Linked DNA regions of Homo sapiens. The protein of the gene in region 1 interacts with the protein of each later gene in a pairwise test. Each region holds a gene or a part of one and is shown in the gene's direction. Other genes may lie near its edges.

Region 1 (7,316 bases):
CTTAAAAATGTTCTTTATCCTCTAATCTCATGGTAAGACCACATCCATATTCTCCAGCCTGTTGAACGGAGCCAAATGCCCCACACATCACTCAAGAGCCCTACCACTCTTTCCTCCCCACACCCGTTATTGTCTCCCTCCTTTCCCTGCTTCTGTTACTCTCTGGCTCTGCTTTCTTCTTCCCATTTTCTGTATCTATTCTTCATCTACTTGAGAACTATTTGGGGATCTCACTTCAGATTTACCATGGCTGCCTCCCAGCTCTGCACAATCCATTTTAATTTTATTCATGTCTTCCAAAACAGGCCCTCCCTGACCTGGGCTGAGGAAACTGGCCAGGCTGAGTCCCTGATCTCCACCATGGCAGGAAAAAATGATATGCCTGTTTAAGATATAAAAGCATTTTTATGGGAAAAAGTACAAAGTTATCACGACAAGCTACAGGTAAGAGCCTGATTGAAGGACTTGAATCTCTAATCCAAAAGCTACATGCACAATTCTACTTAATCTTACTTAGCTCACAGGGCAAATACCAAGGAATAAATCTCATTTATATTTATATTGTAAAAATACCACAGGTTTATCAAGTGTTTAGATGTAATACCCTGCAAGTTCAGAGACTTTATGCTTAATGGAAATAAAACATTATTGTTTTGCAATGGGAAGTGTAACTAATTTTGACAGAGCAAGAACCTGTAGGTTACAGACATTGATTATGAGAGGCTTATAAAAACACTATGCATTTAAATGTTTGGTATAAAATTGCACAGCTCAATAATGAATTCTGGAGGTATCTATTCCTTTAACCCAAAGAGTCTTTTTTCTCCAAACCCAATATTTTTAAAAATAACTATTTGCCTCTACAGGATTTAGAAAACAGTGATACATAAATGCTCTCTGCAAGACATTATTCTCTTTCATTTACTGAATAGTTTCACAAATACCTGTCCTAATATGGTACAATCTTCAATATTATTACATAAAAAAGAGGTTCAGAAGTATTCATTGAATGGCACCATTTGTGTTAATATACAAACATAAATAGGTAGATGTATAAACCGTTATTGCCTCAAGAAGACCCATAGACTGGGCAAGAGGAATACCTACTTTCCACTGTCAGCCTTTTAAAATGTATATATATTTTCTTAGTAAGAGACTGATAAACTGAAATACAGACAAACAGATGGACACATACACACACACACACACACACACACACACACAAAGTGAATAGGTAATCCTAATCCTATATTTAACCAATGATTTATGTGACCAATTAAACTTGTAAAAATATAGAACAATGCCCTCAAAAGAATCAACTCCAAGAGCAAAACAGCTTGATTTATTATTAAAAGAGTATATAATTAGACACACTTATATTCTGTTCCTGAATAGAATGAAACAGAGAGGCCCTACAATTTTGTAGCTTGGAAATTTAATGAAACATTTAAAATAATTATAAGGCAAGATGACTTATGTTACTTGTTTTATCTTGTAAAATTTTCTGTTGAAGAAGGTACTCTAAGCAGAGGCTAAAAGACAATATTTGAGATAATATTTCAGTAAGATTAAAATTAGAATTAAAACTGTCCTCCAGTGAACTGAACTTTCTCAAATTACTGGGTAACCCATCGGCTATAGAAAAATTATTTTCTTAATTAAAAATAGGATGTAATATGACCTACAGGAAGAGTCAATTGAAGCTGTTGACAATTCCAAATCCATTAACCGTAAGATTGATTTTGAAGATTATTGCAGGCAATTTTATGAAAAAATAAATATGAGGTCACATTGAAAAAATAAAGACAGTTAATGCCAGAAAAATACCAGCCACCTGGTATCAGATAGGTACAGTTAAGAAAATGATTAACATAATTATATACAAAGAATAATTTGTATAATTTGCCATCATGTACATGAATATACTTTAAATAATTTTACTTCTAAGAATAATCTTTCATAGAACCATTTGTGATCTATTACACAATAAAACAAATTTTGGATGACAAATATATATTTCAAAATATTATTTTAAGATGCTATAATTCCAATGACTTTATTACCTCCTTTTACTTTCAAAATTGTCCTGGGTTAGAGGACACATTGCATTATCACCCTAGTGGGAGAGACCAAAAGACACTGATCAGCTCAGACATTATAGGGTCTAGTTTCACTACCCCACAGGTACTCGACTTCCTCTTTCTCACTCTTATCTTATAATTTATTTAAATGAATATTATGTGAGAAGTTTAACAGGGATGCAGAATATTTGGAGATTTTTCCGTAACCACTCTCAGTCAACAAGAAGTTGAAAGCTTTCCCAGACTTTTCACTAACAGAGAAATATAAGGATTATTGCCCAGCCATTTCTTTGCTTTGCAAAGGCTGGCTGGATTTAAAATTAAAATTATATGTCAAGTTTCATAACCTTCAGCAAGAAGGATTCCATTTGAATAGCATGTTCCAGGGAAGGGTCCCTTTGAGAATCCTATGTAAGGAAGAAAGCACAGTTAGACAAGTACACAAATCAGCAGTACAGTTAAAGAATATACAACCTAGCTACATGAAGTTTCTTTCAGGACAATGGAAAGTTTAATTAGGAAAACAGTAAAATTTTCTATAACAAATGAGAAAATCCATATGCCCATCTTTATAGAACAAAATCCAACAGTCCTGCTTTTAAGAGATGTAGTTTAAGAATAATGGTTACCTTCTTAACATGGTCAACTCAGCCAAATCCAGCACTACATCTAAAGTTAAAATACTGGAAGCACACCCGCTTTAACATCAGGAGCAAGACAATCATCACTCCCATTCTTGCACAGTATATTTGTTAATGTATTCAGAGCAATTAGACCCTTCCCCACAAAAAAAAGAAACAAAAAAAGGGTGGGAGAAGGGAGGGATGGAGGGATGGAGGGATGGAGGAAGAGAGGAAGGGAGGAAGAGAGGAAGGGAGGAAGAGAGGAAGGGAGGAAGAGAGGAAGGGAGGGAGGGAGAGAGGAAGAAAGGAAGCAAAGGAAGAAAGGAAGGAAAGAAGGAAGGAAGGAATTTATAAACAATACCCTGGATTAAGGTTCAACAAACATTTTCTGTAAACATTTACTAAAGATAGTAAATATTTTAGGTTTTGCAGATCATACAGTCCCTGTCACAAGCACAGTTGACCCTTAAACAACATAGATTTGAATTGTGTGGGTTCACTTAGAGAAGGATTTTTTTTTAATATATTCCTTCATATGGGCAAGTTCTGTATCCACAACCAAAAGTGGATCAAAAATACTGTGTTCACGGGATGCCAAACCTGCATATGCGGAGGACCAACTTTTCATATCTGTGGGTTACGCAGGGCCAGATATGGGACTTTGAGTGTGCACAGATTTTGGTATCCACTGTCCTGGACTGTACCGGACTTTGCTGTTGCAGTGCAAAAGTAGCCATAGACACTAGTAAGCAAATGCACATGGCTGCATGCCATCCGCCACATCTCTCTCTACTTAAGGACACTGAAATTGAATTTCATATAACTTTCACATGTCACAAAATATGATTCTTTTGGGTTTTTTTCCCCAACCGTTTAAAAATGTCAAAACCGTTCCTGTTTCCTGGGCTGTACAAAAAACAGGTATGCCAAATTTGATGACACACTGCCTTACGTTATTTTAACAGTAATTAAATAATTACTCTCAATTAATTCAACAGTATCTAACTATTAGATAAATTTAAACTTATCTAATGGCCTGTTTTTCTAATTTTTTGTGCAGTAAAGGTTTTATAGAAAAATTGTAAAGAATAATCAAATTATGAAAATGTTCAACTTTAAAACAGAATTTTTATTTCCTTCTCTCTCAAAAAAAAAAGGACCCAATCTCTTTAGCTGTTAATTATATTCCTGTAAACAGAGTAACCCTTAGGAATTTCTATTTGAACAATGGCATGCACACAGTTCTTAAATTCATTCCGTTTTCTTTCTTCCTTTTCTTTTTTTTTTTTGTGCTGAACTTCAGCCAAACATTAAACTACCTTGGGAAATAAAAGGTAAAAGAGAAAGAAGCACAAAGATGGTATTTGACCTTATTTTATGAGGACATTCAATCTTAATTTAGAGAAAAAGAATAGAGCTTTTTTAGTGTGAGAAGCATGAGAACTGGAAAGAAGTACAGAGTTTTTCAGACCAGCCTATTTTTCTAAGTTTGTTTTCCGGTAACTATGCTCTTGTTTCTATGCAGGTGAGGTTGTAGGTCAGGTGTGTGTGTGTGTGTCTATAAATCCACACCCATTTTTAACCAGAAACATCCAGAATACATTTCCAACAAGAGCACTGGCCAAGTCAGGTAAGCAAGCAAATTTTCCAGATTACTTAATCAGTGGTCAAGCTTTGCTATATTTAAATAATCACCTTTTGCTATTTAAAAGTGAAGCTTTCAGTAAAGGGTAGGAAAGTGAAATGAATTTTTATTTTTCTTCTTTTACTGAACTGGATTTCCTTTGCTGGTTTCATAGTTTTATCTCTATTTATATTAATGGTATTAGAATAAATTGACGTCAACCACAAAAACGACTCTTTGAAAAGTATTCTACAAGTAATGATAGCTCTTCTTTATATTCTTTTAAGTCTTGTTTTATTTTAAAATATAGGAACTTATAATATCAGTTACTTACGTTAAATTACTTTTGAAAAATAAAATACTAATGTCATAAAATGCTAATTGACCAATGTTTATACAATCTAATTGCTGACATATGGTTATGTGCCTCCCAAATGCATTTTAAGCTGCTGTAGGCCTGTAACCATGCCACATTTATCTGTGTTCCCCCAAGTAGCTTAACCTTGCAACTGATACTAAAGGACCCTCAGCAGTTTACACTATATTTTACCAAGGAAAGCGTTATTTATTCAAAATCTACAGTGTACAAGTTGTACTGCTTTGTCACAGAATATATTTAATATCTATTTTATAATTTATCAATGTAAAACCAGAAAACCAAGATTTTTATTTTTTAATTAGAAAGTATTTGACAATAATACATAAAGACTTGAAATTTTAAAGAAAAAATGGTTCCCGCTTAACTCTAAGCTTCGCAGCTTTAAAATAGCAAAAATGATGAGGTTATGCTTTTTCTTTTTTAAAATGCAGATTCCACCTGCTTGTCTCTGTAGCTAACATAGAAAAATCTTTCTAAAGATTCCTTCCAGATTGACTTTTCTTAACTCTTCTTTATATCCAAGATCCCTGGAAGAATTTTAATGACGTTTTGGACCCTATTCCCACGGAAAAGGAACAGAGGCAGATAAAATTTTGCACACAATTTCCAGGGGTTTTGAGCCTTCTGTAGCTCAGCCACAGGCCTTCTAGAAGCCTGCTGGATCCAGGTTAAGATCCTGTCCTAGGTGGTTGCTTTAGTTCCTCCACTGCAACTCCCAACCTGTCTAACTAAGGCTGCCTTCCCTGGGTTGAGCTTTGTGTTCCAGAGTCAACTGTCCCTGTCCTGTACTAAAATCCACCCTGTATTTGTTTCAGTCTTTAAAGTACAAGATGACCAAGGCCTTAAGGTACAAGATGACATTCTGAAATGTTTTATGGTTTAATAAGTTATGAGAACTTAAACTGAAATTCTTATCAGGCACCGTGATAATTGTTTAACAGGGTTTTTATATGCCTGGAAAGAAAGGACAGGAAAGGAGGGGAAAGGAGGGGAGAGGAGGGGAAAGGAGGGGAAAGGAGGGGAGAGGAGGGGAGGGGAGGGGAGGGGAGAGGAGGGGAAAGAGGAGGGGAAAGGAGGGGAAAGGAGGGGAAAGGAGGGGAGAGGAAAGGAGTCCGGGCGATGTAGCTCACCCTTGTAATCCCAGCACTTTGGGAGGCCGAAGCAGTTGGATCATTTGAGGTCAGGAGTTTGAGATCAGCCTGGCCAACATGGTGAAACCCCATCTCTACTAAAAATACAAAAATTAGCCGGGCATGATGGTGGACACCTGTAGTCCCACGTACTTGGGAAGCTGAGGCAGGAGAATCGCTTGAACCTGGGAGGCGGAGGTTGCAGTGAGTGGAGATGGCCCCACTGCACTCCAGCCTGGGTGACAAGAGCAAAAAAAAAAAAAAAAGAAAGAAAGGAGAGAGAAAGAAAAGAAAGAAAGAGAGAGAGAAAGAGGAAGGAAGGAAGGAAGGAAAGAAGGAAGGAAGGAAGGAAGGGGAAAGAAGGAAGGGGAAGGAAGGAAGGGGAAGGGAAGGAGGGAGGGACAACTGGGGATTAGGGAGGGAAATAAAGTAAGGTTAACCTGGAGTGGTAACTATTTTCAGTCCATAGAGGGGCTGCAATAGATACACCACTGGGAAGGGGAAAACAGTATAATGGGAGGAATGAGGAAATGTCTGGAGAAATCTAGAATCTGTAAACTTCTTTACCACCAAATTGTTGTTCTCCTCCACGACTGCGGTTGCTACTTTACAATAACTAGGTGATTAAAATTGCCAAATGTTTTACCAATGCCAAAACATTGTGTCTTATATATCTTTTCATTTTCCACAATGCCTACTACAATAAAATATAGCAACATCTTTGTTTGAACAGAATCACTAAAGAATCAGTCACTAGCCATTTTGGCTAAGGAAATTTTACTATTTTGGTGATGAGTTCAATACTAAATAATGTAAGCCAATAGGAAAGACGTCTTAAAGGAACTTCAAATCAATGTGAATGATGTCTGTATATTTATTTTATATTTTGAGGTAAAGTTTCAAAACTGCATGAGTCAACCATTTTCAAATCAGTTTTATATGCTAATGCTGTAACTAAACATCTCACAAGTATTAAAGACTTCCTGTAATATATTTATCAAGTGGTTTATGACCAGATCAGGCCCAACTTTGGACTTCAGTTTTTATCTTAACGTGCAAAGTATAAAAGATGCACATTGAGTTAAGAATCAGTTTGAATTCTAGCTAACCAGGAGAGAATGTAATCATGACAGTCTATTCTTCTCTATACATATGTCTAATTTATAGTAATATGATAGTACTTGATTTTTATAAAGAGCTGTATCATAAACTGAAGGGCAAAAGTCTGAGTAATTGTTGGAAGGATGAGAAAGGTAAGAAACTATAAAGGAACTGAAGGACAAGAATCCTCCATATTCTATTTTTCCTCTGATTTCTATTTTAAGCAATATTTATTCATGTATAATCTTATCTTAGTATAGAGTTAAAATATTTTGACCTATTAGATGAAGGAGAATCAAAAGGCAAAGAATATTTCTGCATGCTAAAAGTCACTTCATAGTTTACAAGACATCAAACAACATGATCTTATTTGAGTTT
Region 2 (7,024 bases), on another chromosome or scaffold:
TTCCCTTGTCCTAGGAGTGATAGCTGCTTCCTGCTGTTACTACTTCTTATCACATAAGTAGGACTCAGTGTCCTCTTTTTGCCTTTTCAGTTCTTCAACATATGGTTAACATTTTTCATATGAAAATTTCTCTTGATGTTGATGCTGACAACTTTAAAAATCAAGTCCAATCTCTCTGTTAAAATAACGGATGCATTTTCAGACTCCTGCCTGGACCCTGACTGATAAAGAAATTGTCACTAAGAATGGGATCCTGGTGAGAAAACTTTCAAAGATAGAATTTGGGGGCATCGGTTTGGTAATTTCTTTAGCTCTTTGCCAATGGGAAATAATCTAGTAACCCACAACATGTAGTGGCATCACAATCAAATTGATACATTTGGTTGATTGTGATAAAATTATTTCTGAAGCTGTGTGCTGGAGGACCAAGTGGCTAAAGCGCTTGACTGTTAATGGCAGTAATGATGACTACAGGGACTGAGGGAGAAGTGAGAAGTGAGATAGGTGCTTCTTTGTTCACTGGAGCACTGACAGAAAGCAAATGACAAACTCAGGTCTTCAAAGCGTTAGATCGGTCAAGTCTTAGAGAATCAAAAAGTTTCCATGGTTCTAAAGCACTTCATTTTGTGTAGCCACGGAAAGACTTGCTAAAAATTGGACACAGTTTTATGTTATGTTATGTTATGTTATGTTATGTTATGTTATGTTATGTTATGTAATGTTATGTTATGTTATGTTATTTTTGAGACAGAGTCTTGCTCTGTTGTCCGAGCTGGAGTGCAGTGGCATGATTTTGGCTCACTGCCTATAATTCCAGCACTTTGGGAGGCTGAGGCAGGAAGACTGTTTGAGCCCAGAAGTTCAAGACCAACATGGGAAATATGGCAAAACTCGGTCTCTACAAAAAATAGAAAAATTAGCCAGGCATGGTGGCAGGTGCCTGAACACAGTTTTAACTGCGATAGTAATAGAATTACCTAGCCTTTGTCAGTGTCTCATTTAGAATATTGTTTGGAAAGAAGTAGAACCCTGAGACTTGGAATGGGGACATCTAGGTAGACATGGACAGAGCTGAGAATCTTGAAAAAAACTCCAGTCACTCTGAGCCTCCATTGTTGACAGAAGCTGCTTACTTTTGAAAATTAGCCTTCTCTTGCTTGAAGATCCTGTAATAACCTCACCTAGGGTAGTTTCTTTGCAAAGGGCTATCCACACTTAAGAGCTACCTCTATTATCTTGTCATGAGGCCCAGATCTCTGCATGTTGCCTAGTATAGGGACAAAATCTGATCTGACTAGAAATAGTCTGTCCTTGAAAAGAATTGCAAAATTTTGCTAATTTATATCTGTGGAATCCTGAGGAATATATGTGAGGATGGATTGTAAGCCGGAGAATAGAATGTAACACTAGATCAGATCATATTTATTCATCTGGGTATATTCTCAAGAAATTCTGCATCTAAAGCGTTAACTCATACTTGTTTGTTTGATGGAAACTTGGACTCATTGGTGGCCTGTATTTTATAACGTTGAGATTTCTGTTGTTGTTGTTTTTAAACATTTAGGTTCAGAGGTACATGTGAAGGTTTGTTACATAGGTAAACTCGTGTCATGGGTTTGTTGTACAGATTATTTCATCACCCAGGTATTAATCCCAGTACTCAATAGTTATCTTTTCTGCTCCTGTTCTTCCTCCTAACTTCCACCCTCAGGTGGATCCCAGTATCTGTTGTTCCCTTCTTTGGGCTCATGAGTTCTCATCATTTAGCTCCCACTTATAAGTGAGAACATGCTGTATTTGGTCTTCTCTTCCAGGAGATGGAACAGAAATGTTGAGTGCCTTCTAATTTCCTTGTAAGTACTGCTTTATCAGCATTCCCCCACATTTTGACACATATGTCTTCATTTTTATTCAGGTCATAATTTAAAATAATTTCCCTTTTGATTTTTTTCTTGACCTCTAAGTTATTTAGAAGTTTGTTATTGAGTTTCCAAATATTTGGAAATTTTAAAGATATCTCTGTTACTGATTTATAATTTGATTCCATTGTGGTTAGCATACTTTTTATGATTTGACATCTTGTAAATTTATTGAGACTTGTTTTATAATCCAAATATATTCTCTCTTTGGTAAATGTCCTAATGCACTTAAAAATAATATATATTCTGCTATTATTGGGTGAGTTTTTTGTTTTTTTTTTTTTTTTTGAGACAGAGTCTCGCTCTGTCACCAGGCTGGAGTGCAGTGGTATGATCTCGGCTCACTGCAACCTCCGCCTCCTGGATTCAAGCAATTCTCCTGCCTCAGCCTCCAGAGTAGCTGGGACTACAGGTGTGCACTACCATGCCCAACTAATTTTTTTTTTTAATTTTTAGTAGAGATGGGGTTTCATCATGTTGGCCAGGATGGTCTCGATCGCTTGACCTCATGATCTGCCCGCGATGACCTCCCGAAGTGCTGGGATTACAGGTGTGAGTCACCGCGCCCGGCCGGGTGAGATGTTTTATAAGTGTCAATTAAGTCAAATTGGTTGATAGTGTTATTCAAGTTTTTGATGTCCTTACTGATTTTCTATATATTGGAGCTATCAGTTATTGAAGTTGTGGGGAGTATTAGAATTTCTGACTATAATTGTGGATTTATCTATTTCTCTTGGCAGTTGTATCAGTTTTTGCTTTATATTTTGAAGTTCTATTAATAGGTACATAAACATTTAGGATTATTTTGTGTGCATGATGAATTGACCCTTATATCACTATGAAATGGACCTCTTTGATCCTGGTAATAGTCTTTGCTCTGAGATCTACTTTGTCTGGTATTAATGTAGCTACTTCAGCTTTCTTTTGATTAGTGTTAGCATATACATCTTTTTTTCATCCTTTTACTTGTAAACTCTTTTTGTCTTTTTATTTAAAGTGGGTTTCTTGTATGCACCATATAGCTAGGTCTTATGTTTTTATCCAATCTGATAATCTTTGCCTTTTAACTAGGGAGTTTAAAACATTTACATTTAATGTGATTATTGATATTGTTAGATTTAATTCCACCATCTTGCTATTCGTTTTTTGTTTGTTTTGTCTGTTCTTTGTTTCTTTTCCCCTCTTTTATTTTACTAGTCTGTTTTTTGTTTCTTTTTCCCCTTTGTTCAGCCATCATTTACATTAGTTAAATAATTTATGTGATTCCATTTTATCTCCTTTGTTGGTTTATTAGCAATAACTTTTTTTAGTGGTTGCTTGAAAGTTTATAATGTATCTCTAACTTATCACCATCTACCTTCAGGTAATATTTTAAAGAGATATAAGAAAAGCATTATAATTCCTCACGTAGTTACCATTTCACTGCTATTTATTTCTTTGTATCAATCCAGATTTTTATTTGGTATCATTTTTCTTCTTCCCAAGGCATACTTTAATTTTTCTTGTTGTGCAAGTCTGTTGGTGATGAATTCTTTTAGCTTTTGTTATGTTTGAAAAAGTCTTTATTTTGCTTTGGAAAAATATAGGTATAGAATTCTAGATTGACAAGATTTTTTTCCTGTTAGTTCTTTAAAGATATTCTGCCTTCCATTGCTTCTTATTAATATTAAAAAGCTACTGACATTCTTATCTTTGTTCCTCTATGTGTAGTATATCTTTTTTTCCTTTTCTTTGGCTACCGTAGCATATCTTCTTTCTTTTTCTTAGGATTTTCTCTATATTACTGGTTTTAAGCAATTTGATTATTATGTGCCTTAGGTAATTTTCCTTGTTTCTTGTGCTTGGAGCTCATTGAGATTCTTGGGTCTGTAGGTTTTTATAGTTTTCAACATGTTGGGGAAGGTTTTCGCCATTATGTGTTCAAATACTTTATCTGTCCTCTGCAAACTTCAGTGATATGTTAAGACTTCAGTTACATGGCTGACTAAAAGTTGGCTTACTGATGCTTTTTGTTGTTGTTGTTGTTCAGTCTTTTTCCTTTCTGTGTTTCAATTTCAGTACTTTCTGTTATGTTGTCTTCAAGATTACTAATCTTTTATTGTGCAATACCTAATCTGCTGTTAATCTCATCCACTATATTTTTTATCTAAAACATTATCTTTTTCATCTCTAAATATTGATTTGGGCCTTTTAAATATCTTCCATGCCTCTATATCATATGTGCAGTCATTACTTTTCTTCTGAAACATATGGAATATAGTCCTAGGAGCTATTTTTATATCCTTGTCTACTAATTCAAGTATCTGTATGATTTCTGGATCTATTTCTATAGAGTTTTGCTCCTCATTGTGGGTACTGTTTTCCTGCTCTTTGCATGCCTGTTAATGTTTTTTTATCAGATGCTATACTTTGTGAATTTTACCTTACTAGGTGCTGGATATTTTTGTATTCCTCTAAATATTCTTGAGCTTTATTCTGGGTCACTGTTAAGTTACTCAGAAATAGTTTAGTCTGTTAGAGGCTTGCTTTTCAGCTTTGTTAGGCAGGACCAGAGCAGTCTTACCCAACTCTTTTATAAAATCAGAGTCATCAAAAGTGAATTTTTATTTCATTTGTTAATTTTATTGGTTATCTTTCAGTGTTAGACTTGTGTGTTTTGAAACTTTAGTTTTCAACCTAAATTTTAGTGGAAGATTCGTTTTGTTTTGTTACTTTTCTCCCTTTGTTATCACCCTCACTGTTTATCCACTTTGCAATTATTATTATTATTATTATTTTTAGTTGAGTATTTTATTTTATTTTTTCCTTCAACTTTTAAGTTCTGGGGTACATGTGCAGGATGTGCAGGTTTGTTACATAGGTAAATGTGTGCCATGGTGGTTAGCTGCACAGATCAACCATTCACCTTGATATTAAGCCCAGCATCCATTAGCTATTCTTGATGCTCTCCCTCCCCCAGCTCCCACCCTGATGGGCCCCAGTCTGTGTTGTTTCCCCTCCATGTGTCCATGTGTTCTCACTGTCTGCTCCCACTTACAAGTGAGAATATGCAATGTTTGATTTTCTGTTCTTGCATTAGTTTGCTGAGGATAATGGCTTCCAGCTTGACGCATTTTCCTGCAAAGGACATGACCTTGTTCCTTTTTATGGCTGCATAGTATTCTGTGGTGCATATGTACCACATTTTCTTCATCCAGTCTATCACTAATGGGCATTTGGGTTGATTCCATGTCTTTGCTATTGTGACTAGTGCTGAAATTAATATATGCATGCATGTATCTTTATAATAGAATGATTTATATTCCTTTGGGTATATACTCAGTAATAGGATTGCTGGGTCAAATGGTATTTCTGCCTCTAGATTTTTGAGGAATTGCCATACTGTCTTCCACAATAGTTGAACTAATTTATATTCCCACCAACAGTGCAAAAGTGTTTCTTTTAGGCCAGGCGCAGTGGCTCATGCCTGTAATCCTAGCACTTTGGGAGGCCGAGGTGGGCAGATCACCTGAGGTCGGGAGCTTGAGACCAGCCTGACCAACATGGAGAAATCCCGTCTCTACTAAAAATACAAAAAAAAATTAGCCAGGCGTGGTGGTGCATGCCTGGAATCCCAGCTACTTGGGAGGCTGAGGCAGGAGAATCACTTGAACCCAGGAGGTGGAGGTTGCGGTGAGCTGAGATCATGCCATTGCAGTCCAGCCTGGGCAACAAGAGCGAAACTCCATCTCAAAAAAAAAAAAGAAAAAAAAAAGTGTTTCTTTTTCTCCACAACTTTGCCAAGATCTGTTGTTTCTGGATTTTTTTAATAATTGCCATTATGACTGGCGTGAAATGGTATCTCATTGTGGTTTTGATTTGCATTTCTCTAATGATCAGTGATGTTGAGCTGTTTTTCACATGTTTGTTGGCTGCATGAATGTCTTTTAAGAAGTGTCTGTTCATGTGGTTTGCCTACTTTTTAATGGGGTTGTTTTTTTCTTGTAAATTTGTTTAAGTTCCTTGTAGACTCTGGATATTAGACCTTTGTCAGATGGATAGATTGCAAAAACATTTTATATTCATTTATACCCAGATTCCTAGACCTCCAGACCAGGACTAGGTTTTTGTTGTTTTGTTTTGTTTTGTTTTGTTTTGTTTGGGACGGAGTTTCACTCTTGTTGCCCAGGCTGGAGTACAATGGCATGATCTCGGCTCTCTGCAACCTCTGCCTCCTGGGTTCAAGCAATTCTCCTGCCTCAGCCTCCCAAGTAGCTGGGATTACAGGCATGCACCACCATGCCCAGCTAATTTTTTTTGTATTTTTAGTAGAGACGGGGTTTCTCCATGTTGTTCAAGCTGGTCTTGAACTCCCGACCTCGGGTGATCTGCCCACCTTGGCCTCCCAAAATGTTGGGATCACAGGCGTGAGCTACTGTGCCTGGCCTTTTTTTTTTGAGACAGAATCTCTCTGTGTTGCCCAGGCTGGAGTGCAGTGGCACAATCTCTGCTTACTGCAGTCTTGACCTCCCAGGCTCAAGCGATCCTTCCACCTCAGCCTCTTAAGTAGCTGGGACCACAGGTGTACACCACCATGCCCAACTAATTTTCCATTTTTTTTTTTTTTTTTTTGTAGAGATGGGGTCTCGCTATTGTTGCCCAGACTGGTGTCGAACTCCTGGGCTCAAGCATTCCTCCCTCCTCAGCCTCCCAAAGTTCTGGGATTATGGGCAGGAGCCAGTGCACCCAGCCTAGGACCAAGTCTTATAACGACAGTTCTGCGTATTTTTGTATTGACCTAATCCAGCTCCTGGTTCCAAGTTATAAACCTGGCTCTGGCCCTTGTCTGGAGAAGACAGCCTATGCTGGTCTCCTTAGTACATGAAGGCTTGGTTGCCACTGTCTGCTGCCAGACTGAGAACCATGAAACCATGGCATAGCCTTACTCATTACTTTGTTTCTTTGCTTTTTTTGGATCCATAAAGGTATTTGTTCCCAGCATTTTATTATAAAAATTTTCAAACATACAGAATACTAGAAAGAATTACACAGTGAACACACATCTGCCCATCACTTAGATTCTACAATCAGCATTTTACTGTAATTTCTCTATTACATATCTGTCC
Region 3 (6,858 bases), on another chromosome or scaffold:
TGGGATTACAGGCGTGAGCCATGGTGCCCAGCCTGGTAATTAACAGATACTTCGTGACCACCCACTATGCACCAGGCCCTGTTCTATAATTCAGATGAAAATCCCTGAGAGGAGCTGACGTGCTAGCAGGGGAGGCAGATAGCACCACAAAAAAAAAAAAAAAAAAGCAAACAGAAGTCAAAAGGTCATAGAGAGGTCAGGGGGTAGGTGCGATGGTGGTCGGGGAAAGCCACTTGAACCTCATGGCTTTGAGCTGTCCAGATGCGGGAGAAAAGAGAGCCAGGCAAGGGAATAGGCATTGCAAGGGCTCTTGGCCAGAAACATGCCTGGAGTGATCCAGGAACGGCAAGGAGGCCCAGGTGGCCGGAGCAGAGTGAGTGACAACAGGGGTTAGGGGGAACCCTGAACCTCCCCTGAGTTTCCCTAGTCTGTAAGATGGGGGTCTCCAACCGGTGGCCCCAGGGCCTTATCCAACCACTGGATATTTTTCATTCTGTCTACAAAGTGTTAAGAAAACGAAGTTACCAACATTTAAAAATCAGGGCCGGGTGCAGTGGCTTGCACCTATAATCCCTGCGCTTCGGGAAGCCAAGGTGGGAGGATCACTTGAGACCCAGAGTTCAAGACCAGGTTGGGCAACATAGCGAGACCCCCGTCTCTAAAAAAATTAAAAAATTAGCCAGGTGTGGTGACGTGCATTTGTAGTCCCAGCTACAGGGGAGGCTGAGGTGGGAGAATCACTTAAGCCCAGGAGTTGGAGGCTGCAGTGAGCCATGATTGGACCACTACACTCCAGCTTGGGCAACAGAGCAAGAACTCACCTTAAAAAAAAAAAATCCGGAAGGCCGGGCTCGGTGGCTCATGCCTGTAATCCCAGCATTTTGGGAGGCTGAGGCAGGCGGATCACTTGAGGTCAGGAGTTGGAAACCAGCCTGGCCAGCACGGTGAAACCCCGTCTGTACTAAATATACAAAAATTAGCCGGGCGTGGTGGCACACACCTGTAATCCCACCTACTCGAGAGGCTGAGGCACGAGAATTGCTTGAACCTGGAAGGCAGAGGTTGCAGTGAGCTGAGATCGTGCCACTGCACTTCAGCCTGGGCGACAAGAGCAAAATTCCATCTCAAAAAAAAAACAAAACAAAACAGGAGATTTCATCATAAAAATCTCCATTTCTAGCTTCTGTGGGTGAGTGATGACGTCAGAGCAGCACAGAGGCAGGTGTCAGGGAGCCTGTGGACTCTTGGCCACTGTGTCACCTCACATGGCTCCTGGAAGCCAGGCGGACAGTGATACGTCCACAGCCACACCATCCCCATGGTGGTGGGACAGGGTTACCTGCCAGTGCCCACTCTTCTCCCACAGGTGCTGAGACCACAGCGCTGTTCCACAAAGCCCCAGGAAGCCACATTACCCTGTCCACCGGCCTCTCTAGCCCCATCTTGCCCAGGAAGTGGGACCTTGGCGTATCGCTGTGACCACACCTCCCAGCCGGTCAGCCTGGCCGCTCAGGCTCTACCTGCAAAGGCAAGGCCCCACCCAACCAGCACCCCTCTCATGGCTGGGGGTGCCTCCAGGCTGCCCTCTCTAGGGCCAGGAGCCTGCAGAAACGCTCCCAGCCTTGAATAAAGAGCAACGAAATTATTGAAACAAAATCAATAAAAGTTTGAATCAGGGATGGTATAACATGCTCTGGCTTTGATTCTGTGCTTTAATTCAGCGTTCCTGAAAAACTTATGATGTCAGAAACTATCTGTAGGTTTGGTTTTTTTCATTTTGCAAGAATTCCCAGGATATGGAGAAATCACAGCCACTCACAGCCTTAACAGGTTCTTTGGGCCCAAATGATTCCAAAAGCAAAACGAGAGAAACTTTTTCAAATATGTTTATTATGTATATTATATACAATATATTAATAAAACATATTACCTACATGCATTTAAAACATAACTGAAGTCAGATTGGCCCAGAAGACTCACTCCAAATGAGACCTAATCCCCAATAGGGTGCAAGTGACTGCACAAACTCTACTCCTCACAGCCCTTCCTAAGACTCAGTGTGCTCATCACACTAGGGTCTCAGAGTCCTTCTGACCATAAACCCAAGCCCCAGCGCCAGCCCAACACACACTTGGACGCAGCATGTTCACGTCCAGCCTAGGAAGAATTTATGGTTGACCTGGATTGGGTAAAAACCGTAAACGTCTGTACCTCAGAATGTAAGATCATGGTGTTTAAAACTACAGAACATTCAGAGGTTGTCAGAAGTCTCTAATTGCTGGTCCCCCAGGTTGAAACCAGCCCTTAGGTTGAAATTTTGACCTGCAAATTTTTTTTTAAATCTGAACCAAATTTTTTAAATTAAACCCCTTTAAGGTAGTACATTTTCAAGATGCAAAATTCAAAAAATATAAGAGGGCACGTGATAATGAGTGAGTCTCACTTCCACCCCACCCTCCAGCCTCCCAGTTTCCCTCTCCAGAAGCCATGGGTATGGATGCCAATCTCCAAAAATATTTTATTCATTACAAGTATATACATATGCATTATTTTACCGCTCACAAATGGTAGCACACTGCACGGTTTCCCAATACCTTGTTTTTTTTCCCCTTAGCAAGCTGTCTGGGAAATACTTCTGTATCTAACCACGGGCAGGGGTGTTCCTCCAAGATTTTTAGACAACAGTTCTCCAGTTCACCCCGTTCCGGTGAAGGGCAGAGCACCCCCCGCCCTTCCCAGCCACCCTGTACACGCCCCTACTCGCTCTCGGATGCCTGCAGTTCCCAGGCTTCCCAGCAGAGGGAGACACCATTCCACTCCCAAGACCACCAAGGGGTCGTCCCAGACACAAGCTTCAAGGGTCTAGGGAAGAGACGCTATCCGCCCAGACACAAAGACCCCCCTTAGCTATACTGAGTTGGCCTCCGGGCCTCCCCTTCCTGTTTCTATCTCCTCCTGGACCTGTTGCTTAGAGCCCTACCCCGAGGTCCCCCCGCCCGGCTTCCTTATGGGAACTGGCCCCGCCTTAAGAGTGGTAGGAGGGAGCCTTACCCTTGTCTAGGACCTGGGCTTGACAACTTGCCCCAGGGAACCACATAGAGAAGGGGTGTAGCGCTGGGCGAACATTGCCCTCCCCGATCCCTCAGCGATGACAAGTGGGGGGTCCTTCTCTCTGCCCCCAGCAGGCCAGTTTCCGGAAGAGCCTTGACCCAAACCCCCTTTTCCTGTCCTGTGCTCCACACTCCCAGCAGCTGCTTCTCCCTGGCCAGGCCCTGCAGCCCTCCTCCCCGCCCCCACGGTGGTGTTGGGGTCGCCTGGAGTCCAGCTGGTGTCCAGGGCAGAGCTACCCCTTTCCTGGCCCTACCCCTCCCCGTGACCCCAATCCTCCGCCAACCGCTCAAAGGATCCTTGTTCTCCATCCAGCCCCCAGACAAAAGTCCCTCTGTCTAAGAAGGCGGAATTGAGGGGAGGGGGCACCCCCAACTGGGACCATGGGGGAGCCTGCACAGACCCCATCCGGAAGGAATGCCTGGAGGAGGAGGAGCAGGAGACAGGGGAGGAAAGGGGGAGGGAGGCTTGTACAGTGCTGGGGGCCTTATGTGGACTAGGAGGCAGCCGCCCCCACCAGCACCCACTCTGTAGACCCAGGCGTCTGGCTCCCAGCACCCACGGAAAGAGCCTGGCTAGGAAACTGCAGCCTGGTGCCTGGCAGACAGTTCTCATTCTCCCCAGGGCAGGGAGCAGGTTATGACCAGGACTAAGGTCCCAGAGTCCCCACCCTGACCCCTCCCTGCTGTTCCAGCCGCTCCCTCATATCCACCCCTGCCCCATCTCCTGACTTTGGTCACGCTAGCATCTTCTGCTGATCCTGAAATTGTACCAGCGGCAAGATGTGGCCTGGAAGGGGACTTTAAGTTCTCCACAACTGCCAGCAATCCTTCCACCAGGCAAAACACATCATCTAAGGAAAAGAAGTGAGGTCGGAACACCAACGCATCATCTCACTGCATGGCCCTGGAGGCTCTGCCGTTTAAAGACCCCAGAACCTTCCCCATTCAAGGTCCTCTCCTGGGCACAGGAGATTGGAGAAAGCTCCTCCCTTAATTCCAGGGGCCGAGTTCCAGCCCATCCAATTCTCCGTCTCACCTGAGGCTGCTGTGGTCCTGGTGACCCCAGGGAGCAACCTGCCGCCCATGGCTGGGGAGGGGGTGAAGCTGTCTCTTTAAGAGCAGGAATGGAGCCCCTGGGCCTCAGGGCATCTGACTTGTTTTCTACCTGCCCAGGTTTGCTTAGGGCGTGGCAGCTTCGGATAAACGCAGGACTCCGCCTGGCAGCCCGATTTCTCCCGGAACCTCTGCTCAGCCTGGTGAACCACACAGGTGAGCAGCTGGGGCCCCTTCCTCCAAGCCCTCCTTGTCTCTGCCCCTAAATTAGGAAGTATCTACCTGCCCCCTGACCCTGCCCCATAGAAGCTTTTATGTTAAAGCGCCTAAAATCTTGTGAAATGCTTTTCTGGAGCCAGGAGATAAACGGAAGTCCCTTCCCCTAATGTCCCTTTCCCCACCATTCTCCTCTCAGGGACTTGTTGAACCAGCTGAGGTGAGGGCAGGACTGATAAGTGTGGTTGGGGTGTCTGAAAGACTAGTGTCTGCATGGATTAGGGATATCTGGGTTGGGGATAGCTGGGTGGAGGAGAGGGGGTGCCTGGGTAGGTAGGGGTATCTAAGTGGACCAGGGGTGCGTAGATGGACTGGGGACATCTGGGTGGATGAGGAATGCTGGGTGGACTCGGGGTGTCCAGACATTGAGGGATCTGGGTGGATAAGGAGTGCTGGGTGGACTCGGGGTGTCCAGACATTGAGGGATCTGGATTCTGGAGACCTCCAGGAAAAAAGGATGGAGCTGCTGGGGGAAGCTTTAAATGGGGAGTTGCTTGGGAGATTTCAGGAGCACACAGCGGGCAGGATCTTTCTACCCACCCCTGAACATGAGACCATTCTCCCATGGTATGGAGGAATAGAGGGGATAGCAGAGGGCAGGTGGGGGAAACAGTCCTCAGGCCGGCCTTGGGACCTCATGGCCAGGAAGGATGAGAGCAGGTAGACAGAGCATCAGCTGCAGGGCTGCCTTCCTCTCTAACCTGCTCACCAACCACATCAGTTCGGGAGCAGCCCACAGCCTCTTCAGACAACAGCCTGAATGGGGAACGTGAGGGCAGACCCAGCTCCCGGCTCCCTGCAGCCTCCGGAAGCATGGGACTGGACGTTGTTTTGCAGAGGCTGGGGCGAGGAGGATACCATCTGTCAGTCTTGGCTGGATGACATCATGGGAAGGGGGTATAGTGGGGCCTTGCAGGCCAGAGGTGGCTTGGAGGAGCCCCTGGAAAGAGGCTTAAGAGGTGAGACTCAACAGCCATGGCGACAGAGCATAGGGCTTTAAGATGAATTTGCAGGGGTTACAGGATTACAACTGCAATGTGGGCTAATAATAGTGCCCCCTGCATTAAGCTGCAGAGATTGAGCGAGTAAGTGGGAAGCTGAGAAAATGCCCCCATGGGGTAGACACTCAATAAGCATCTGCTGTTATTACCAGGACTCGTATGGTCATGGGTGACAGCTTCAGACCACAGGCAGTCCACCTACAACCTGTGCCCCTATCCAACATGCCATCCTGCCCACCCACCCACGCCAGCTCCCCCAACCCCCAACACTTTTGGGGATCCTAAACACTTCCTGGGCCTCAGTAATGCTCCCCAAAGCCTCAGGCTTTCTTCCCGCAAAAAAAGGAAAAGAAATGGATGCTCCAACTAAAATTGTGAGTTCAGCATGTGGAATTAACTGGGAAGCTGAGAGGATTCCCAGGCCCTGGGGTGCCAGGCAGAGGGAGGAGTCTGTGCCAACCTGCAAGGACCACCCGCACCGTTGGTTGCGGGCACCACCCTCTCTCAGCATTTTTGCTGTTCGTGAAATGAGGACATAGTGGACGACGTCGGGGATTGCTGGGGGGTTAAGTGAGTGAGAACACGGCAAGGTCAGTGTGCACTCCAGGGCAAGGTGGAGGAAGTGCCAGCTCTCGCTATCAAAATTATAACTAGGCCAGGCGTGGTGGCTCACACCTGTAATCCCAGCACTGAGGGAGGCCGGGGTGGGTGGATCACCTGAGGTCAGGAGTTGGAGACCAGCCTGGCCAACACAGTGAAACCCTGGCTCTACCAAAAATGCAAAAATTAGCCGAGACTGGTGGCACACGCCTGTAGTCTCAGCTACTCAGGAGGCTGAGGCAGGAGAATCACTTGAACCCAGGAGGCAGAGGTTGCAGTGAGCTGAGATTATGCCATTGCACTCCAGCCTGGGTGACAGAGTGAAACTCCGCCTCAAAAAAAAAAAAAAAAAAAACAATTATGATAACTATGCACTCAGCATTTGGGCAGGGACAGGGCAGGGACAGGGCAGGGGAGGGCATGCTCGGAGGCCAGGGCTTGGTGCAGCCTTGCAGGCTGGTGAGAGGGCAGGACTGATGCCAGGTCAGGAAGGAGAGAGAAACGAGTTCCTTATGCTGAGCAGGTCTACCTGGGAAAGAGAAAGTGTTTGCTGTCACCAGGAACTCTGCTGGGCCTAGGGTAGGGTCAGGGGCTGGGCTGGGGACCCCGGCTAGGCAGAGCCAGGGCTGGGACCGGGAAGGGCATGGGTGTGGGATGAGGGGCAGGAGGTTCGGGGGAACAGAGATGGAGCTAGGGCTGCAGCCAGGAGGTAGAGTCCCCCTCTACCCCCAGTCCCAGCCTCACGTCAATTCCTCCACACACCACCCCACCCCCAAGCAGCTTGAAGAACCTGCTCAGTCCTCAGCCTGAAGTCTGCA
Region 4 (7,479 bases), on another chromosome or scaffold:
GCTCGATTTCGGCTCACTGCCATCTCAGCCTCTCGGGTTCAAGCAATTCTCCTGCCTCAGCCTCCTGAGTAGCTGGGATTATAGGTGCCCCCCACCACACCCGGCTAACTTTTGTATTTTTATTAGAGACGGGATTTCACCATGTTAGCCAGGCTGATCTCAAACTCCTGACCTCAGGTGATCCACCCGCCTTGGCCTCCCAAAGTGCTGGGATTACAGGCATAAGCCACCACGCCTGGCCTGTTTTTATCTTTTTTGCAGTCACTCCAGAGTCAGTAGTTAGCAGAGTAGGAGGAGGAAATCAGGTGAGGCAGAACTTGGAGGGGAGATTCCAGGACTCTTCTCATCTTTATCCCATTTGTATGCAGAGGAACAATCCTGCACCATGACTCAACAGCCACTTCGAGGAGTGACCAGCCTGCGTTTCAACCAAGACCAAAGTGAGAGAGGATTGGGCCTGTACCCTTGTGGGAGGAAGCGAGGAAAAGAGGGGTCAGAAGTGGGCCATGGGCCCCCAGCTTCCTACCTGGGCATTCTTTAAGGCAGTCTGGATTCCTTCCATCCCCCAGGCTGCTTTTGCTGCGCCATGGAGACAGGTGTGCGCATCTACAACGTGGAGCCCTTGATGGAGAAGGGGCATCTGGGTGAGCTGTTGGCAGGGGAGGGGCAATGGGCAGAAGAGCTGGGCTGGGCGTTGGCTCCCACCTCCACTGACACCCTGGTCCCTGTCCAGACCACGAGCAGGTGGGCAGCATGGGCTTGGTGGAGATGCTGCACCGCTCCAACCTTCTGGCCTTGGTGGGCGGTGGTAGTAGTCCCAAGTTCTCAGAGATCTCAGGTAAGTGCCCTCATCCTGCCCTTTGGCCCAGATTTCTCGGATTCCTGGCCTCCCACAGGCACCCCAAGGTACTGGCAGATGAAGACGTCAGAGTACTTCAGAGTCACACAGAGAGGAGGCCTACAGCTTGGAAGTCATGGATCTTATAGCTTGAGAAGCTTGGTGCTTTGTTTTCATTTTAAAAATTCTGATTGAGTGCCTCCTGTGTGCCATGCCCTAGAGCACTTACTGTGAGCCTGGAACTGCCCTAAGCACTTTACGTTTATTAACTCATTTAATCCTCACAGTAACTCTATGGGGTAGGAAGGATCATTATCCCCATCTTTACCGATGAGGAAACTGAGGCCCAGTGCAGTTAAGTGACTCATCCAAGGTCACACAAGCAATAGGTTTTAAAATCTTGGAGCCGTCTTCCCAATACCCCCTTGGCTTGAGCCTCAAGTGCCATCTTACTTTAAGGGTTTTTCTTGATGATCCCATCTGGACAAGGCAGGAGTTGCCCTAGGTGAGTCACAGAGCCCTAGGATTCCTCACGGAAATCTCCAGGGTGCATGGACTAGGACCCTGGAGGCAGAAATAGTTACCGAGGGGAAGTTACAGGCCTGAGTGTGAGTCCCTGTTTGGTTGCTGATGAGCTTTGAGGTCCTTGGCCAGACACTCAACCACTTTGAACCTCAGTTTCCTCATCTGTAGATGAGTGTAACAGTCTAGAACACTCCTCTCAGGGATCATATCCACAAGTGCTCGTGCTGTGCGAGGATCTCACTGGTTGTTTATTGAAAGGCTAAGCAAGTAGGTTGAGGTCCCTGGGAAGCAGGGGTGGATCCTGTGTCACCAGGGCTGCCCCTTACCCTAAACCTTGGCCCCGACAACCCACCCACCTGCCCAGCAGTGCTGATCTGGGACGATGCCCGGGAGGGCAAGGACTCCAAGGAGAAGCTGGTGCTGGAGTTCACCTTCACCAAGCCAGTGCTTTCTGTGCGCATGCGCCATGACAAGTGAGCCTGAGGAGGACCGGGGTGGGAGGTAGGAGGTCCCCACAGTAAGTGAGAGGGATAGTCCTCCCTGGGCATCCCGCCACCCCCTCACGGCCATCCTGTGTTGTGTGATACCCACAGGATCGTGATCGTGCTGAAGAACCGCATCTATGTGTACTCCTTCCCCGACAATCCCCGAAAGCTGTTTGAGTTTGATACCCGGGACAACCCCAAGGGTGAGAGGGCTCAGATACACAGGTGTAAGGGCATGAAACAGTGGATGGGGCAGAGGGGCAGAGATGAGGAAAGAAAGGAAGGGGCACTCACACACAGAGAAATGGGGAAAGAGGCAGGGAGATGCTCACACTCATAGCCTCTCCATCTTTCCAGCCCTCAGCCAGTTCTCCCCACCTCCGGACCTGCCCCACCCCTGGGTACCCCAGTGGCAGAGCAAAAACACCTCGTGAGGACATGGGTGGGTGTGTCAGGGATCCCTGAGCTTCTGGGGCTGTGATAGCAGCTTACTAGATTCCACAGCTGCAGAGCAAGGAATGGAATCTGCCTAGCTGGCGGGGCGTGCAGCTGAGCTGAGCCCCCTCAGGGTTCTTCGGGTTAAGCTTATCGTGGAGGGTTGAAGTCTGGTCCTCATCCAGCTCTGTCCATTCTGAGATGCTGCCTCCTCTTCAGCCGCCCACCCCACCCCCCATCTTCACACCCTAGGGCTCTGTGACCTCTGCCCCAGCCTGGAGAAGCAACTGCTAGTGTTCCCGGGACACAAGTGTGGGAGTCTGCAACTTGTGGTGAGCCGTCCAGTGGACAAGGGTGGGTAGGTTGGTGGACTGGCTTCCTTGTGGACTCTTGGCCCCTTCCCTCCATACCACCCCAACCTCAGACTCCTCCCTCCTACCCCAGGACCTGGCGAGCACAAAGCCTGGCACCTCGTCTGCTCCATTCACGATCAATGCACATCAGAGTGACATAGCCTGTGTGTCTCTAAACCAGCCAGGCACTGTAGTGGCCTCAGCCTCCCAGAAGGGTACCCTTATTCGCCTCTTTGACACACAATCCAAGGAGAAACTGGTGGAGCTGCGCCGAGGCACTGACCCTGCCACCCTCTACTGGTGAGCACAGGGTATGCATGGTGGGCTGGTGACCCCATACCACATGACATGTGGGCATCACTGCTGATCTGTCTTCTAGCATTAACTTCAGCCACGACTCCTCCTTCCTCTGCGCTTCCAGTGATAAGGGTACTGTCCATATCTTTGCTCTCAAGGATACCCGCCTCAACCGCCGCTCCGCGTGAGTACCCCCTCCCCACCCTACCGTGTCCCTGTCCCCCTGCCCATTTACCATACCTGGGCTTAGCCAGTGCTGCCTGCAGGCTGGCTCGCGTGGGCAAGGTGGGGCCTATGATTGGGCAGTACGTGGACTCTCAGTGGAGCCTGGCGAGCTTCACTGTGCCTGCTGAGTCAGCTTGCATCTGCGCCTTCGGTCGCAATACTTCCAAGAACGTCAACTCTGTCATTGGTGAGTGGGAACAGCCCCTTGGTTGGGGGTACTGCATGGGGCAAAGGCCTGCAGGTTGGACCTGAAAGGATTTTAGGGCCATGTGAGGCTCAGCTTCATCATCAGTAAGGGGGACAGCACTGGGCAAAGGCCTGGAGGCAGACCCTAGGTCCTGAGATGCCTGAGAGGACTGGAGCCTGTGGCTGTGGCAGCCTCTGACCTTTTACCACCCCCCCTCCCCCAGCCATCTGCGTAGATGGGACCTTCCACAAATATGTCTTCACTCCTGATGGAAACTGCAACAGAGAGGCTTTCGACGTGTACCTTGACATCTGTGATGATGATGACTTTTAAGGACCCTGGGGGCTGTGCTAGGGACCTGCAGTGGCAGAACTGCAGAGCTGAGCCTTGGCAGTGGGGCGTGCTTGGAAGCCACCAGCCAGCAAGCATTAATGGGGCTGGTGCCCACTTTCCACTCAGCAGAGCTATGTCTAAATAAAGAGCTCACTTCCCCCCAGCACTTCTTGATGACTGTGTGCCCCAAGGGCCAGGCCAGAGACCCAGGAAGGCAGCGACCCCTTGGGATCCCTAACCTGGAGGAAATTGCCAGGGACCCAGAGGGAGTGCCCTAATCCAACCTGGGGATTTTTTAAAAGCTTCCTAGGAAGAGATGATCTCCGATGTGATGAATACGAATAAAAGGCCCTTAATGGCATTTACGGCTTGACCTCAGGGGCGGGGCATGGAGTTTCCTGGAGAAATGTGACCCTCTTGGGCGCTGACAGGAAGGAGGTGGAATCCAACTCGGATCCTTGTGACAGTCCCTCCTTTCTTATCTGTCTGGCTACTTTGTGCTTGAGCCGCTGGCACCGCCCGGAGCAGCCCCTGCGGCGCCCCGCGCGGGGGTGGATGGCAGTTTTAAGGGTTGGGAGCATCTCGCTTCGTGGCAAAGGCTTGATTTCCCGGCAGCCTTTGCTGCTTTCCTGAGCGGCGTGTTAGTTGCTTTTCCGGTCACGTGCATCGCCGCCCCTGCGCAATCCACCTAGGAGGTTAGGAAAAAGCTGCCCAGCCCAGACTCCATTTCCCGGTGTGCCCCGCGGTGGCGAGGGGCGTAACGGTTGTTGTAGTCCGGCCCCCTCCTGGCTGGTCCAGCCACATTAACCGGCAGGATGTCGGAGGTGCGGCTGCCACCGCTACGCGCCCTGGACGACTTTGTTCTGGGGTCGGCGCGTCTGGCGGCTCCGGATCCATGCGACCCGCAGCGATGGTGCCACCGCGTCATCAACAACCTCCTCTACTACCAAACCAACTACCTTCTCTGCTTCGGCATCGGCCTCGCTCTCGCCGGGTGAGGGAGGGAGGCGCCGGTTGGCCAGGGACGTCTGCAGAGCGTGGGGGTAGACCCACAGGTCTTTGAGGACCAGGACGGGGAACCTGAGGGGGGTGCAAGGCCGGGAAGGGCGAAGTCAGTAGAGATGGACGGCCTGAGGGGCTTGGAAGGGGGGCCTTGAAGGAGGTGGAGCCTAGTTATAAGGAGGGCCTCAGGGAGATGGAGCCTGGCTGATGAGGAGGGCCTGCGGGGGATGGGGGTCTGCAAGGAAGATATGGGGAGGATGGAGACAAGTGTGGGACTGAAGGGGAAAGTGGGCTGGAAGGTGAACCGGAAAAAAAGGAGGGCCCGAAAGGGGGACATGAGAGTACTTGAGGGGCGTAGGGGGGGTGTGATGTGAATGATGGGGCCAGATTGAGGCCGACCCTGGAGTACTTAGGGCAGAGACCGGGAAATAGACGGTAAAGTTGGAGGGTTTGGAAGATGTATTTATTGGGGATCCGGTCTTGGAGGGGAGCCTGGCTATGATTGGAAGGCGCCAGGGGCAGGTACCTGTTGGGGAACTTGGGCCCAGGAGGAGGATCCATGGTTGGAAAGCCTGAGACCAGAGAGGGATGGAGAATCTGGAGGAAGGACTTGAGCAGTGCTGAAAGTTCAGAGTGGGGCTGACGACCTGGAAGAGGTCCTAGCAATGATGGAGGGAGGAATCTATAGGGAAATGGGAGCCTGGAGGGCGGTTCTATAAGGACCCTAGGCCTGGGGAGAGGGGAACGTGTGAAGACAGAAGGCCTGAAAGAGGGATTTGCAGGGGCTGGTGTTAAAGGGGGAGCTTGCGGGCAGGCTGATGAGGGGCCCTACGGGGGCAGAGTCGGAAGGAAAGTCCAGGGAAGTGTTGGGAGCCCGGGGGTGTGGGGAGTGTCTAGCAGGATGGGAGGGCCTGAAGCGGGGACCTGAGGAAGACAGGACAGTGGAATTGACAAGGAGGAAAGGAGGGGTCTACAAGGGTGAGTCGGGAGCCCTGGCAGATGGGCCTGCTGGAGATAGGGCTGGTGGGAGGATGTGCCAGGCTGGAGTGTCCGGAGACGGGAGACCCTGGCTCTTGGGGCCCAGGGTGGGTGGTGGTCCGGAGGCCGTCTCTCCGCCCGGCCGGCTAGCTTGGTTCCCTTGTACCCGCAGGTACGTGCGGCCACTTCATACGCTCCTGAGCGCGCTGGTAGTGGCGGTGGCCCTCGGCGTGCTGGTGTGGGCAGCTGAGACCCGCGCAGCTGTGCGCCGCTGCCGCCGCAGCCACCCTGCAGCCTGCCTGGCCGCAGTGCTTGCCGTCGGCCTCCTGGTGCTCTGGGTCGCGGGCGGCGCTTGCACCTTCCTGTTCAGCATCGCCGGGCCGGTGCTTCGTGAGTCTCCACTACCCCGAGATAGCCAGGAAAGCAGCCAGAGCATGCTTAAGGCACCAGGCCAGCCCTGCCGGTCCCCGGGTTGAGAGGGGGCTGGGAAACCCGAGGGCCTCGCCACGCCCCCGCTAAAAGCGCCTTCCCGGGCTTCGTTCCCCCTTCTGGGAACACCCCTTTTATTATCGCCTTTCCTATCTCACTCTTGGTGTTAAGTGCCTTCCACTGGCCACGTCCCCGTTACCGGGCGTCTTCCCTGGCCATGCCCACGTTGCCAAGCCAATTACTCGGCCACGCTTTCAGTATCTGAGGCGTCCTGGCTGCTCACCACTCCATTGGCCTGCCTGCGCGCCAATTCCCTTCGGTGGGCCCCGGTTGGCTGCAGGCTGAGGTCTATTCCACTGACCACCCCTCTCGGTGCCGCCCACAGTGATCCTGGTGCACGCCTCGTTGCGCCTGCGCAACCTTAAGAACAAGATTGAGAACAAGATCGAGAGCATTGGTCTCAAGCGGACGCCAATGGGCCTGCTACTAGAGGCACTGGGACAAGAGCAGGAGGCTGGATCCTAGGCCCCTGGGATCTGTACCCAGGACCTGGAGAATACCACCCCACCCCCAGCCCATAATTGGGACCCAGAGCCCTTTCCCAGCACTTAAAACAGGAGCCTAGAGCCCCCTGCCCAAACAAAACAGGACATCTGTGACCGCCCTACCCCCACGCCAGCCCCAAACTAAGATATCCCTCACACCCAGCCCCCATTACCTAGGGACAAGAGTCTTCCCCAGCCTTGAACCCAGGACCAAGAGCCACCTACATCCAGCCCCAAAACTGGCTTCAGGCCAGAGCATCCATGGCCAATTTCAAATTGTGAACCCAGAGACACTCCCATCCACCCTTCTCCATGCTCATCCCCAAACTGGGGCCTGGGGCAAGGCACTCTCAAATCTTGAACCCTGGACCAAAGCTTTTCCAGACCCCACCCTACCTTCCAACCCAGGTCAAGACATTGCCAAATCTTGAACTCAGAACCCAAGTGTTCCATGCCCCTGTGTGGATGGAGTCGGGTATCCTGACTGTTGGACCCCTGGTCCAGGTGATCCCGACCCTCACCAGTCCCATTTGCCTCCCTCCAGCTCTGCTTAGGCATTTTGCCCCTCACCCCAATGTTCCACACCATCGACAACCAAGGGGTGAGGTGGGGACAGGCCTCAGCAGGGAATGGGGCGTATATGTTAGTGTTGCTGCAACAATAAAGCCTGTTGCATCTCTCATGCCAATTTGAGCCTCCTGGGTAAAGTCCTTGTACATTTCAAAGGACAGAAGTGGCCTACTTTTCAATTCTGCTAGACTCTTCCTGAATATGTGGGCTGAAGAGGTGATCTCTGAGGCCCTTCCTTGAACTTATGACCTCTGGATCAGCATTAAAGCACAGGGAA

Evidence for each region.
Region 2: the proteins of AGR3 (region 1) and CGRRF1 interact in binary tests that used the Homo sapiens proteins (3 or more experiments, as listed by UniProt).
Region 3: the proteins of AGR3 (region 1) and FXYD3 interact in binary tests that used the Homo sapiens proteins (3 or more experiments, as listed by UniProt).
Region 4: the proteins of AGR3 (region 1) and PRAF2 interact in binary tests that used the Homo sapiens proteins (3 or more experiments, as listed by UniProt).

What each region holds. Positions count from the first base shown.
Region 1 is NC_000007.14:16,878,962-16,886,277, reverse strand, and holds the start of AGR3 (anterior gradient protein 3 precursor), read left to right. Parts: upstream 1-4,294; 5' UTR 4,295-4,334; intron 4,335-5,522; exon of another isoform or gene 5,523-5,554; intron 5,555-7,316. UniProt on the Homo sapiens protein: Required for calcium-mediated regulation of ciliary beat frequency and mucociliary clearance in the airway. Might be involved in the regulation of intracellular calcium in tracheal epithelial cells.
Region 2 is NC_000014.9:54,512,901-54,519,924, forward strand, and holds part of CGRRF1 (cell growth regulator with RING finger domain protein 1), read left to right. Parts: intron 1-7,024. UniProt on the Homo sapiens protein: Able to inhibit growth in several cell lines.
Region 3 is NC_000019.10:35,111,981-35,118,838, forward strand, and holds the start of FXYD3 (FXYD domain-containing ion transport regulator 3 isoform 1 precursor), read left to right. Parts: upstream 1-3,842; 5' UTR 3,843-3,979; exon of another isoform or gene 3,980-4,060; intron 4,061-4,283; 5' UTR 4,284-4,379; intron 4,380-5,276; exon of another isoform or gene 5,277-5,325; coding exon of another isoform or gene 5,326-5,398; intron 5,399-6,019; exon of another isoform or gene 6,020-6,144; intron 6,145-6,509; exon of another isoform or gene 6,510-6,619; intron 6,620-6,858. UniProt on the Homo sapiens protein: Associates with and regulates the activity of the sodium/potassium-transporting ATPase (NKA) which transports Na(+) out of the cell and K(+) into the cell.
Region 4 is NC_000023.11:49,071,002-49,078,480, reverse strand, and holds PRAF2 (PRA1 family protein 2), read left to right. Parts: upstream 1-4,478; 5' UTR 4,479-4,493; coding exon 4,494-4,672; intron 4,673-5,830; coding exon 5,831-6,048; intron 6,049-6,472; coding exon 6,473-6,612; 3' UTR 6,613-7,320; downstream 7,321-7,479. Other genes in the region: WDR45 (WD repeat domain phosphoinositide-interacting protein 4), read left to right, coding at 386-440, 570-644, 734-838, 1,728-1,836, 1,957-2,051, 2,536-2,615, 2,728-2,936, 3,016-3,117 and 2 more. UniProt on the Homo sapiens protein: May be involved in ER/Golgi transport and vesicular traffic. Plays a proapoptotic role in cerulenin-induced neuroblastoma apoptosis.